Linked DNA regions of Homo sapiens. The protein of the gene in region 3 purifies or fractionates together with the protein of the main gene of each other region. This does not show direct contact. Each region holds a gene or a part of one and is shown on either strand. Other genes may lie near its edges.

What was found.
Region 1: the proteins of DNAJC7 (region 3) and MTO1 purify together in Homo sapiens (co-immunoprecipitation; 3 studies listed by BioGRID and IntAct, with this or other methods). This does not show direct contact.
Region 2: the proteins of DNAJC7 (region 3) and VPS13A purify together in Homo sapiens (affinity purification with mass spectrometry; 3 studies listed by BioGRID and IntAct, with this or other methods). This does not show direct contact.
Region 4: the proteins of DNAJC7 (region 3) and MLF2 purify together in Homo sapiens (affinity purification with mass spectrometry; 3 studies listed by BioGRID and IntAct, with this or other methods). This does not show direct contact.

What each region holds. Positions count from the first base shown.
Region 1 is NC_000006.12:73,464,737-73,468,236, reverse strand, and holds part of MTO1 (5-taurinomethyluridine-[tRNA] synthase subunit MTO1, mitochondrial), read right to left. Parts: intron 2,029-3,500; coding exon 1,829-2,028; intron 1,749-1,828; coding exon 1,631-1,748; intron 1-1,630. UniProt on the Homo sapiens protein: Component of the GTPBP3-MTO1 complex that catalyzes the 5-taurinomethyluridine (taum(5)U) modification at the 34th wobble position (U34) of mitochondrial tRNAs (mt-tRNAs), which plays a role in mt-tRNA decoding and mitochondrial translation.
Region 2 is NC_000009.12:77,184,034-77,187,533, reverse strand, and holds part of VPS13A (intermembrane lipid transfer protein VPS13A), read right to left. Parts: intron 1-3,500. UniProt on the Homo sapiens protein: Mediates the transfer of lipids between membranes at organelle contact sites. Binds phospholipids. Required for the formation or stabilization of ER-mitochondria contact sites which enable transfer of lipids between the ER and mitochondria.
Region 3 is NC_000017.11:41,986,440-41,989,939, forward strand, and holds part of DNAJC7 (dnaJ homolog subfamily C member 7), read right to left. Parts: intron 3,119-3,500; coding exon 2,965-3,118; intron 2,458-2,964; coding exon 2,293-2,457; intron 1,472-2,292; coding exon 1,380-1,471; intron 1,256-1,379; exon of another isoform or gene 1,156-1,255; intron 1-1,155. UniProt on the Homo sapiens protein: Acts as a co-chaperone regulating the molecular chaperones HSP70 and HSP90 in folding of steroid receptors, such as the glucocorticoid receptor and the progesterone receptor.
Region 4 is NC_000012.12:6,747,496-6,750,141, reverse strand, and holds the end of MLF2 (myeloid leukemia factor 2), read left to right. Parts: intron 1-134; coding exon 135-294; intron 295-1,159; coding exon 1,160-1,347; 3' UTR 1,348-1,372; exon of another isoform or gene 1,373-1,594; 3' UTR 1,595-2,146; downstream 2,147-2,646.

The DNA.
Region 1 (3,500 bases), on a different chromosome or scaffold from region 3:
CTGAGGCAGGAGAATTGCTTGAACCTGGGAGGGGAACGTTGCAGTGAGCCAAGATGGTACCACTGCACTCCAGCCTAGGCAACAGAGCCAGACTCTGTCTCAAAAAATGTTAATAGATGGCTGGGTGCGGTGGCTCACAGCTGTAATCCCAGCACTCTGGGAGGGCGAGGCGGGTGGATCACAAGGTCAGGAGAACAAGACCATCCTGGCCAACGTGGTGAAACCCCATCTCTACTAAAAATACAAAAATTAGCTGGGCATGGTGGTACGTGCCTGTAGTCCCAGCTACTCAGGAGGCTGAGGCAGGAGAATCGCTTGAACCCGGGAGGCTCAGGTTGTGGTGAGCCGATATCGCACCACTGCATTCCAGCCTGGCACAGAGTGAGACTCCGTCTCAAAAACAAAAACAAAAACAAACAAACAAAAAAAGTTAATAGATAATGTCTAGAACTGTAAATTAGGAAGTAAAAAGATAAGCCTGCTATTCAGAAATATGGAAGTATATACAATAAGTGACAACTAAAAAAGCTGAAGTGTCTGTCTCCAGGGAAGGAGATGGTTGTTTTCCCACATAAATTTCTAAATTTCTTTTATATTTATTTATTTATTTATTTATTTATTTTGAGACAGAGTTTCGCTCTTGTTGCCCAGGCTGGAGAGCAATGGTGTGATCTCGGCTCACCACAACCTCCGCCTCCTGGGTTCAAGTGATTCTCTGGCCTCAGCCTCCTGAGTAGCTGGGATTTCAAGCATGCGCCACCACACCTGGCTAATTTTGTATTTTTAGTAGAGATGTGTTTCTCCATGTTGTTCAGGCTGGTCTTGAACTCCCAACCTCAGGTGATCTGCCTGCCTTGGCCTCCCAAAGTGTTGGGATTACAGGTGTGAGCCACTACACCCAAACTTATTTTTTATTTTTTTTTGACACAGGGTCTCACTCTGTTGCCCAGGCTGGAGTGCAGTGGCATAATCACAGCTCACTGAAGTCTCAACCTCCTGGGCTCAAGCAATCCTCCCACTTCAGCTTATTGAGTAGCTGAAACTACAGGCACCTGCTACCACACCGGCTAATTTTTGTATTTTTTTGTAGACATGAGGTTTTGCCATCTTGCCGAGGCTGGTCTCAAACTCTGGGGCTCAAGCAATCCACCTACCTCGGCCTCCCAAAGTGCTAGGATTACGGGCATGAGCCACCATGCCCAGACCCTTTTAATATTTTAAGAAAAAATTATATGCATGAGTTATTTTGATAAAAAACATACATAACTCTTTTACATAAAAATATATATAAGCTGTTAAAATATGAATTTTTTAAAAAATTAAAGTCAGAACCAGAAAAAACAGAAATTACAATAGAAAGATGGGGAGAGAGGGAGACATAAATATGCAGATTACAAAGTTCTACACTAAGATGGAACATGGTACTGATGAGCCTAGAATTTGACTGAGCATCATAAATGCCAAGATGAAAAGAGAAACATATTTATTTATATAGTTTTCCTCATCCAGGTAGAGAAAATGCAACAAGTTCCTTGAATAAGCAACATATCTCCACACTTTGCTCTAAAATAAATTTCTCACATGGAATTTGATATGCTGTTATCATACACCATCTATAACCAATACGTACCCAAAACAACCCCACTGACACGGCATTTCCCAGTGTGTTCAGGCTCTGGTTCTGTAAGAATAAGATCTTCTACAGCTCCCTCCTGAACAGTAAGCAGTGGTGTATTCAAGATTTCTTTCTGTCAAAAGAAAATGCCAGTTGAAACATGGTAATTAAACAATCACTATAATCTTTCCTGTGCTCATGCCCTATTCTTACCTGCATGTTCTGTTTATAGAGTTTCCTATCAATCTGAGCTCTCAGACCCCACACAGCTGGTCCCTTACGCCGGTTTAATACTTTATAATGTACACCAGACTGGTCACAGATGCGAGAACACAGGCCATCCAAGGCATCTACTTCCCTCATTAAATGTCCCTTTCCGATGCCACCAAAGGAAGGATTACATGACATCTGACCTAAAGATAATAGACATAAACAAAATAAATATATGAGCACCTTGCACATAGTGACTACTTAATAAGGAAACATTTATACAGGTGACTATAATCATCTCATATGATAAAAAATAGAAAACGTGAAAGATATACTACAAAGAAAATCCCAAAGACCCAATGGGATGCAAAAGTGTCCAGGGCAACCTGGATGACAAACCACTTCCTGAACTTCCTTTTGTTTTTTTTAAGATGGAGTCTCACTCTGTCACCCAGGCTGGAGTGCAGTGGTACAATCTCGGCTCACTGCAACCTCTGCCTCCTGGGTTCAAGCGATTCTCCTGCCTCAGCATCCCGAGTAGCCGGGATTACAGGTGTCCGGCACCACGCCTGGCTAATTTTTGTATTTTTGGTAGACGGGTTTCACCATGTCGACCAGGCTGGTCTCAAACTCCTGACCTCAGGTGATCTGCCCACCTCGGCCTCCCAGAGTGCTGGGATTACAGCCGTGAGCCACCGCGCCCGGCCTGAACTTTCTTTTGAATCTCTTCCTTGATGCATATTTTTACTGTTTCACTAGGTTGCCTTTTCCTTTCAAACATGTAATCCTTACCCCATGAAACCTTTCTAAACCAAGTATACTTGGTTTTTAAATTTGTTCTTTTTTGATACAGCACCAGAGGAATCTACCAAATCAAGCACACTTGTAAGAAGTCCCTAGTCCTTCAACATAAATAAGGACAAAAATAAATAAATAAATAAAAAACAGGGCCGGGTGTGGTGGCTCACGCCTGTAATCCTAGCACTTTGGGAGGCCAAAGAGGGTGGATTGCTGGAGCTCAGAAGTTTGAGACCACCCTGGGCGACACGGTGAAACCCCGTCTCTACTAAAATACAAAAAAATAGCCAGGCATGGCAGTTTGCACCTGTAATCCCAGCTACTTGGGAGGCTGAGGCAAAAGAATCGCTTGACCCTGGGAGGCTGAGGTTGCAGTGAGCCGAGATGGCACCATCGCACTCCACCCTGGGTGACAACAGTGACTCCATCTCAAAAAAAAAAAGAAAAGAAAAAAGAAAAAACAAAGAAGCCCCTTGGCACTGGTTCAGTTACAACCAATTATGTCTTCCATAAATGCCATCTGATATCTCCTTTTTGCACTTACTTTGCAGAATTAAATATAATTAAATTACAAATTTCTTGTGAGTGAAGACCATATTTTATACCTTTCCCTTACATTTACCCAGTCTTACCTGGAGGTCTAAACCCATGTGGTTACCTCAAAAGTTTTTGTGGGAGGTGGAGGGATGGGCAAGTTATGTCAATATCCACATATCCACTGCCACCACATCAAGAATCAAGACCTCCAAAAGTTTTTTTTTTTTTTTTTTTTTTTTTTGAGACAGAGTTTCGCTCTTGTTGCCCAGGCTGGAGTGCAATGGCACGATCTCAGCTCACTGCAACCTCCACCTCCCGAGTTCAAGTGATTCTCCTGCCT
Region 2 (3,500 bases), on a different chromosome or scaffold from region 3:
GTTTCTCCAATTAAGATATACAAATGGTCAATAAGCCCATGAAAAGATGTTCAACATTACTAATTAGAGAAATGTAAATGAAAACTACAAGATACCACCTCATATCCATTAGGATAACTACTATCAAAAAAAGAGAAAATAAATGTTGGTGAGGATGTGGAGAAATGGTGACCTTTGTACACTGTTGGTAGGAATGTAAAATGGTGCAGTCACTATAGAAAGTAGTATGATAATTCCTCAAAAAAATTGATAATGGAATTACTATATGATCCAGTAATTCTGCTTCTGGGTATGTAACCCAAAAATCTGACAGCACAGACTGAACTTCAAAGAAAAATATCCACATTCATAACACCATTATTCACAACAGCCAAAAGGTGGAAGCTGCCCAACTATTCATCAACAGATGAATGGAGAAACAAAATGCAGTATATACATACAATGGGATACTATTTAGCTTGAAAAATTATTGAAATGCTGACATTTCCTACAACACGGATGCACCTTGAGGACATTATGCCAAGTAAAAGAAACCAATAACAAATGGCAAATACTGTATAATTCCACTTATACTTCAAGTATTCGAATTTACAGACATCAAAAGTAGAATAACGGTTACTGGGGTCTGGGAAGACGGTGGAATGGGTAGTCATTGCTTAACGGGTAAGTGGTTCAGTTTTGCAAGATGAAGAATTCAGGAGATGAATAATGGTGAAGTCAGGAGATGAATGGTGGTGATGGTTGCACAATGTAAGTGTACTTAATGACATGAAGTGTACACTTAAAATGGTTAAGATAGGCCGGGTGTGGTGGGTCACACCTGTAATCCCAGCACTTTGGGAGGCCGAGGCGGGCAGATTACTAGGTCAAGAGATCAAGACCATTCTGGTCAACATAGTGAAACCCCATTTCTACTAAAAATACAAAAATTAGCTGGGCATGGTGGCATGCATCTGTAGTCCCAGCTACTTAGGAGGCTGAGGCAGGAGAATCGCTTGAACCCAGGAGGCAGAGGTTGCAGTAAGCAGAGACTGCGCCACTGCACTCCAGGCTGGGCAACACAGCAGGACTCCATCTCAAAAATTAAAAAAAACAAATAAATAAAGGAGTTCTTCAGAAAGAAGGAAAATGATTTAAACCAAAAACTCAGATTCACAGGAGCATTAGAGAATTAAGAGATGAAGGTAAATTAAGTCTTTTCTTCCTTATTCTTAAATTAATAGAAAAATGTCTAAAATACTAATAGCAGCAATGCATTGGATTATTACAGCTTATAGGTAAGTGAAATTAATGACAACAATGTTACAATGGGCAGAAGGGAGGAATCTGTATACTGTATTGTAAGATAGAGTATTACATATACTACCTCCATTTTCCATGAAGTAGTATAGTGGGATTTTTGTTTTTGTGTTTTTTGAGACAGAGTTTCGCACTGTCGCCCAGGCTAGAGTGAAGTGGCACAATCTCGGCTCACTGCCTCCCAGTTCAAGAGATTCTCATACCTCAGCCTCCTGAGTAGCTGAGACTACAGGCGCACATTACCATGCTCAGCAAATTTTTTGTATTTCTAGTAGAGATGGGGTTTCACCATGTTGACCAGGCAGGTCTCGTACTCTTAACCTTAAATGATCCGCCAGCCTCAGTCCCCCAAAATGCTGGAATTACAGGCGTGAGCCACTATACCTGACCTATAATGTTATTTGGACGTGGACTTGGACTAGTTTTAAGTGAACAGCACAAACTGTAATACAACCACTTAAATAAATTGTTTAAGAAGCATAATTGGTATGCTAAGACAGGAGAAAAAAATTAAATCATATCACATGATCAATTAAAACCAGAGAGGGCAAAAGAGGAGGGGAAGACTGTTTAAAAAGGAAACAAGTATAACAAAACAGAAAACAGCTATAAATATGATAAGACACTGTCAAAGGAAAATAAAGGTTTTTCTCTCTACTCTCATATTCGACACAGAACCCTTAGATAACCAGATATGTGAAGTTTTTCCCCCAATCCCTAAACAATTCTCCAACAGACACTAACTATAATTCAATTAAATAATGACACTATCTACCTAGAAAGGGTGTCATATCGAGCCGGGCGCAGTAGCTCACGCCTGTAATCCCAGCACTTTGGGAGGCCAAGGCAGGTGGATCACAAGGTCAAGAGATCAAGACCATCCTGGTCAACATGGTGAAACTCCGTCTCTACTAAAAATACAAAAAGTAGCCTGGTGTGGTGACAGGCGCCTGTAGTCCCAGCTACTCGGGAGGCTGAGGCAGGAGAATCACTTGAACCCGGGAGGCGGAGGTTGCAGTGAGCCAAAATTGCGCCACCGCACTCCAGCCTGGCGACAGAGCGAGACTCTGTCTCAAAAAAAAAAAAAGAGATAATGTCATATCCCACATGGTAAGGGCTCAGTTCCATAAGACTGCCCCTCACTTCAGATGTCAGTCACAAGTCGCAGGCTGTGATCTGTGCTTCTGATTGACCAGCTATAAATCAGGGTTCGCACCTGATTTTATTTGGTTTGATAATTTGCTGGGATAACTCACAAAACTCAGGGAAATACTTATATTTAACAGTTTATCATAAAGGATATTACAAAGGATACAGATAAAGAGATGGACAGAGCAAAGTAAGGTGGTGGGGAGCTTCCATGCCCTCCCTGTTGTGGACTTTGGTATCTGCACAGGTCTTGGAACTAAACCCCTGGAGATACTGAGTGCTAAACATACACGTCATGACCAAATGGGATTTATTCTAGGTATGCAAGGCTAGTTCAACATTCAAAGATCAATTAATGTAATGTATCACACCAACAGATTAAAAAAGAAAAAAATCCTGTGATAATAGTAATAGATGCAGAAAAAAACATTTGACAAAATCCAGCATTCTTTTGTTTTTGTTTTTTTGAGACGGAGTCTTGCTCTGTCACCTAGGCTGGAGTGCAGTAGCACGATCTCGGCTCACTGCAACCTCCGCCTCCCATGTTCAAGCGATTCTCGTGTCTCAGCCTCCCAAGTAGCTGGGACTACAGGTGCCCGCCACCACACCCAGCTAATTTTTGTATTTTTAGTAGAGACAGGGTCTCACCATGTTGGCCAGGCTGGGCTCGAACTCCTGGCCTCAACTGATCTGGCCACCTCAGCTTCCCAAAGTGCTAAAATTACAGGCATGAGCCATCATGCCTGGCTCCAACATTCTTGAAGGAAAAGAAAACACTCTCAGCAAAGCAGAATAGATGTGTATGTATGACAGAAAGAAAAAAATTAGAGTATTTGTTGCCTCTGAAGATGAGGGTAGGAATAAATTAGGAAAGGTCAGGAAAAAGACTTTCTGGGGTGATGGTCATGTTCTATATCTTGACTGGGTTTGAGTTACATGTGTGTATGTATTTGTCAAAACTCAGTCAATGTACACTTAAGATTTGTATATTTTCTTCTACATAAATTTTACCTCAAAAGGAAAAAAACTAAGCAAATATTGCACTCTAATGA
Region 3 (3,500 bases):
TCCATATACAGAGCATTCCATTAAGTTCATACAGTATCAAGTATCTAGCCACCCCCTTCCCACTGGACATGTAGGTGATTCTCCCCCCGCCTTTTTTTTTTTTTTTTTTTGCTATTATAGATAAAATTGCAGCAAACACCTTCATGTATATAGCATTTTGCGTCTGTTAAAGTCAGTCTTTGGCTGAATCAAAGGGTGCTTTTTTTGTCTTCCAAAGCTTCTGCTTCTGTGTGCCAGTGGTTTGCAAAGATGGAATGACTGACAGTCAGTCTCACAGAAGTTATAATTCCCTGTATGTTTCTGTTGGACAGACTTAGTCATCAACTTAGAAATTCACTTTTAAAAAAAGCATCACACACAGCAGCAGTTTTCCTATTTTAAGTGAGATAATTTTGAGAAAACTAAGTGGGAGGTAGTCCATGAGATATTCTGTACCACTGATGAGACAAGGAAGCTTAAACTACTGGCTCATCAGGCATCAGTGACAGCATCTGTTCTTTGGATATGACATTTTATAATAAGGAGTGGAGCAGGTGCTGGAGGATTAGTATACAATAAATACATCTTCTCTAAGAACTTTAAAGACGGGAAGTTTTTCTCCGCCTAGAGAATAATCTGAAATCAGAAGAGATGGATTTCTGAGAAAGATTTCTCCTAGCCCTGTTCCTATCTGGAGAAAACCAGCTGGTGGGTCTAAGAGTAAGAGGAGCAACCATGCCAGGGAGCACCCTGACTCTGGGGCAAATGTGAGCATTAGAGGTAGGCACATCCTGGCTCATAATCACCCTGTCAGACACAGAGTGCCCTCCACTCAAAACACTCAAGCAGAGAGTAGCCATCCAGGGTGTTTCAAAAGGAAGTTCCTTTATCCTGGGAGGCTGAGCCGGATTACATCTCTTCCAACTCTAAGATTGTCTTCCCTCGCCCAGAACAAACAGGATGAAGTACAACTCTCAACTGTCTCCAAGAGTTGTTTTCTCTTCCAAGCACCATACATTCATTCAACAAAACATTTATTCAGTGAGCACCTATGTGTCAAGCACTGTGCCAGGGTAGAGCATAAGTGTACAACACAAAATAAAATCTCCAAAGGAAATGGATTTAAACTTTTTAACAAAAGGAATTTGGGTCAGGCATCAGAGGAAACTTACTGACCGTGAGGGGCGTTAGACACAGGCATGGGAGACTGAGGGAGCTTGTGCAATCTCCTCCGCTGGAGGTCTATAAAGATAGTCTAGGGCTGGAACAATCCCACCTAGAGGCAGGGGGAAGGACCAAATGACCTCACAACATCTCTGGGTCTGCTTCGTCATCCACAAGGCAATTCCCCTGAGGCCAGCGGCAACTCCCTCTTCCCCCTACCCATCAGAGGCACTTACCACTGAGCTCTTCTCAAGTAGGCTTTTATGTAAGTGTCATCAAGCTTCACTGCATTTGTGCAGTCTTCTATTGCATCATCTAGTTTCCTAAGCTTCAGGAGAGAGAGAGCAATCATACTTCACACCTTTGGTGACTGAGGGAGCCCAGAAGCTGTGAGCATGGCTTCAAAACTCTAAGAGGATCAGTCATGCTGGCCCCTTAAATGTCATATTAAGTTCTAGTTCTTTGTCACCAGGGCTATGGACAGCAACTTCAAAATTGATTTCTCTTGTATATGATACAAGCCAGGCACATCTGTCTTCAAGGATAAACTACCTTTACCATTCCATGTTAGTGCCCAATGAAAACATGAAAATAGTAAGGCTGGTTCCTGCCCTCCTTTTTTCCAGAGGTCACCTGCAGGGATCAGAAATCACTCTGATTTTTAACTGCTAGAATTCTGCAAGGGCAAGGAGTCTACTTTTTGTTTCTGATGTTGGGTAGGGCCACAAAAGCACTCAGGCCATTTTCAACCATGCATGGTGACCATCAATTACACTGGAGAAAAACAAGCTTGCCTCATACTCTTCCTCCAAATCACTCCTAAAAAATAAATGATCACTTGCATAAGCAAAACAACAAAAAAGCAACAGTAGGTGCTTAAGATTATCCCACAGACCCTAGCCATTCTCTTACTGGAGGAAAGGGACCTTAATGAACAGGTGAGAATATCCTTGCAAATTGTCCAACTGCCCTCAAATTCCATAGAGATGACAAAAGCTTGCCTCTTGGAAGGGAGTTCCTAACAAACTATTAACCATAACAACTTTCCCTCTTTCATCTTGCTTACCCTCACTAGGCAGATTTCCCAAGACCCTTTGATGTCCCTTAAAAATATTTCTATAGGCCCCAAGATCTAGATCAAGAGCTTACCTTGGAATTAACCGTACCCCGATTACAGTAGAGTTTAGCATTTGTTTTTATATTGTTGGGGTCTATCCCCAGGGCTTCTGTGTACAGTTCATATGCTAGTTTGTAATTTCCTTCCTTAAATGCTTTATTCCCATCTTCTTTCTTTGCTTTGAGTGCTTTGGCATTCTACAGAAAAAAGCAAGGGGAGGATCGGTTCATATCCACAAAGCCTCAGACCATTGCACAGAGAGGCCAGACTCTATTTTCAAGTTCTTTGCTTCCAGCAGTTCAGCATCACAGAGCCCCGCCAACCCCCAATCTGGGCTATCTGTTGCTCATTTGAGCTTCCTACAGAGTGGACAGGAAAAGAGTTACCAAAAATACCAATGAGACCTATGTTACTGGGTCTGCCTTCACTTCTCAGGACAAGTATTACTATCTATCTTCACTGAGGGGAAAAACAAAACAAAAAAACCCTCTTAGATATTAAAGGCATCCGACCCTATATGATCACATCTACCTTTAGGTAAATACAAGTAGTCCTGAAACCATTTCTAATAAAGACCAAGCATCCTTGCAAAGCAGGAGGAAAAGCTATCACATTCCTTGTGATTCTAAAACCTTCCACTCTAGCCATCTTAAAGGTCCCAAAAGGAAGCTCTTTCCCAGTTAGGTCTGGTGACTAGAACTTACTCTGCAGGCAATGCAGGCCTTCTCGTGGTCAGGAGCCATCCTGAGAGCCTGTACGAAAAACTGAACTGCCTTCTCAATACAATCTTCGTAATAAAGGCAAAGACCTCGTACATACAGAGCATCTGCATTGGTGGAATCCATTCGTAGAATGTCACTGCAATAGTCAGAAAAGGGCACATTGAGCTGTGCTTTAGAATGTCCCCACCATTACTACCATTTGTGGCCAGTTTTCCTCCTTGACCATGTGTCTAGCATTCAAAATATCCAAAGGTAGACAGATTCCCAAGAACTGTTCCCAAACTTTCCCCAAATAAACCACCTATAATTATCTTTAATACACATCTTGTGTCTTACAATCCTTATTAAACTAGAACAGGGTTTGGCAAACTACAGCCCACAGGGCCAAATCCTTTCTGCCACTGGTTTTTGTAAATAAAACACTATTCAAACAGCCACACCCATTGGTTCATCTATTATCTAGGGCAACCTTTGCACTGCAATGGCAGAGTTGAGTTAGTTGCAACAGAGACCCTGTG
Region 4 (2,646 bases), on a different chromosome or scaffold from region 3:
GGATTGAGCGGCACCGCCAGAAACCCTGGCTGCTTTTTTCCGGATTGGGTTGTGTGTGGTGTGTTTATCCTGAGATGGTATAGGCAGGGCTTTGGAAGGGGCGGCTGAGTGTGCCACGTTCTGCCTCATCCCAGATCCGGGAGACACGGAGGACTGTTCGGGATTCAGACAGTGGACTGGAGCAGATGTCCATTGGGCATCACATCCGGGACAGGGCTCACATCCTCCAGCGCTCCCGAAACCATCGCACGGGGGACCAGGAGGAGCGGCAGGACTATATCAACCTGGATGAGAGTGAGCCTTCCCTCCCGCTTCCTGGCTGGCAGCCCCTAACCCGGTTCCCGTGGACATCCCTAACACATAGACACTTCTGGGGCAAAGCTCTGGGTCAGCCCCATATTCCTTTTTTTTTTTTTTTGAGATGGAGTCTCGCTCTTGTTGCCCAGGTGCCCAGGCTGGAGTGCAGTGGCGCGATCTCAGCTCACTGCAACCTCCGCCTCCCGGGTTTAAGCAATTCTCCTGCCTCAGCCTCCCGTGTAGCTGGAACTACAGGCATGTGCCACCACGCCCAGCTAATTTCTGTATTTTTAGTAGAGACAGGGTTTCACCATGTTGGGCAGGCCGTTCTCGAACTCCTGACCTTGTGATCCACCCACCGACCGTTGGCCTCCCAAAGTGCCGGGATTACAGGCATGAGCCACTGCACCCAACTGTCAGTCCCATATTCTTACCGCACTTGGAGCCTCCTCCGCTCGGGCGGAGTCAGGTGCTGGCGGTGTCTTTGTGAGGGGCCTACTTTGTCCCTGAAGTTCCGTATTGATAGTGTTACACCCTTCTCCACCTTGATCCGTTTCTTTCTCCCCTCTTTATCTTTTTCAAATCCGCAATTATTAAGTACCTAGTGTGCACATAGGACTGTGAACCTGAACTGAAGAATAATCCCATTCTGATTTCTTCCTCCAGTAGGCCACCTTACGCCTACCGGTGGCTTCCTGGGACCGTGCAGAAACCAAAAGAGCTAAGGGAATTGCCACCCCACCCATCCCTGCACGCACACTCAGCCTTCGCCGCTTTGGCCCGAAAAGCTGTGGCTCGCTCGCACATCGGCCTCCAGGAGCCAGGCCGCACACAGGCCTCATGTCCGCTCTGTCCTTTCCAGGTGAGGCCGCAGCGTTTGATGACGAGTGGCGGCGGGAGACCTCCCGATTCCGGCAGCAGCGTCCCCTGGAGTTTCGGCGGCTTGAGTCCTCAGGGGCTGGGGGACGAAGGGCGGAGGGGCCTCCCCGCCTGGCCATCCAGGGACCTGAGGACTCCCCTTCCCGACAGTCCCGCCGCTATGACTGGTGAGGGCCCCGGGCCCTCAGCCTCTCTTGTAAGTATCAGGAGTAAGGAGGGTGGGGTGCACCTGCGGACGGTCCTCGGCTGCAAGGCAGGCTCAGTTCAGGCTCCCGCAGGAGCTGCCTTTGGTAGTACAAGTTGACATGGAAAGAGAACAATGTTCTCACTGACATAGGGGATTAAACCCCAACTCCTGGCTCTTAACGTAAGTTTTTTCTTCCTTTTGACTTGTGCTCCTCTCTCTTTCCCCCTCCAGGTACAGGCTGAGAGGCTGAGAAATCATCCCCTGAATAACTTTTTCCTCTCGATTCCCATCCCCAATTTAATATTAAATTAACAGGCAAGCCGGCCCCCACCTCTCCCTGGGGGTCTCAGGGAGAACCTTTCACGGCACCCTTTCCCTACCTTTTCCTTCTTTAATCTCCTGGTTTACCATTGATGACTTCGCCTCTGCATCTACTGACTTGATTTTTCATTCTGCCACTCCATCTTCAAACCCCCTCACCTTTCCCATCCTACTCCTGCCATGCATTGAAGGGTCAATGCATTTTGGGGTGAGCTCTGGGTTTAGGGGCCCCCTCCATCCCTCAGCTACCCTGGATCTTTGCCCACCTCTTCCTCAGAGCCCCCACTGAGGGGCCGTAGCCCTATCTAGGGCTGTGGAAGGAGCAGACTGGTTCCTAACTCTCTCCCTCCTCCTGCCCACACACATCAAAAGAATCTTCCCTACACCCTTCTCTGCCTTTATTTTTTGATTTGTGCAACTTGTAACTAGGTGTTTATGGAATAAAGGAGAATGGAAAAAAGACCAAGTGGGATTCTGGCTGTACTTTTGATCTTTTCCTGTTCAATTCAACCCTGCTGTCTCCTCTGAAGTTACCTTCTCACTTTTCCTCGTCTCCACCTGTAGTCTTCGTACCTCAGAGTTCAAGCCCACATCTCCTTGGTACGGACAGACCATCAGCACTGCCAGGTGCAGGCCGTGAGCACTTGGCTGGGCTAGGCTGGGGCGTGAGAACATGAGCACCTCTCTCGCTGGCTCTTCCCTCACATTCTGCTGTAACTTTGCTCTTCAGGGATGTGTTGGGCATCTCTCATGGGTGCCTGCGGAACTTGCTGCCCCTTGCCCCTTGGACAGAGTTTCTTTCCTGCACTCTGGGTGGAAACACTTCAGATAACCCTACACAGGCCTTCAGAGGGGAGGAACTCTGGTCTGCAGCGTTCCACAAACCCTCCACCCACAGTAGTTGAGAATTTGAGCCCAGGGAAGGAGCCTAGAGAAGAAAACTAACCTGGAACCTGAGCAGG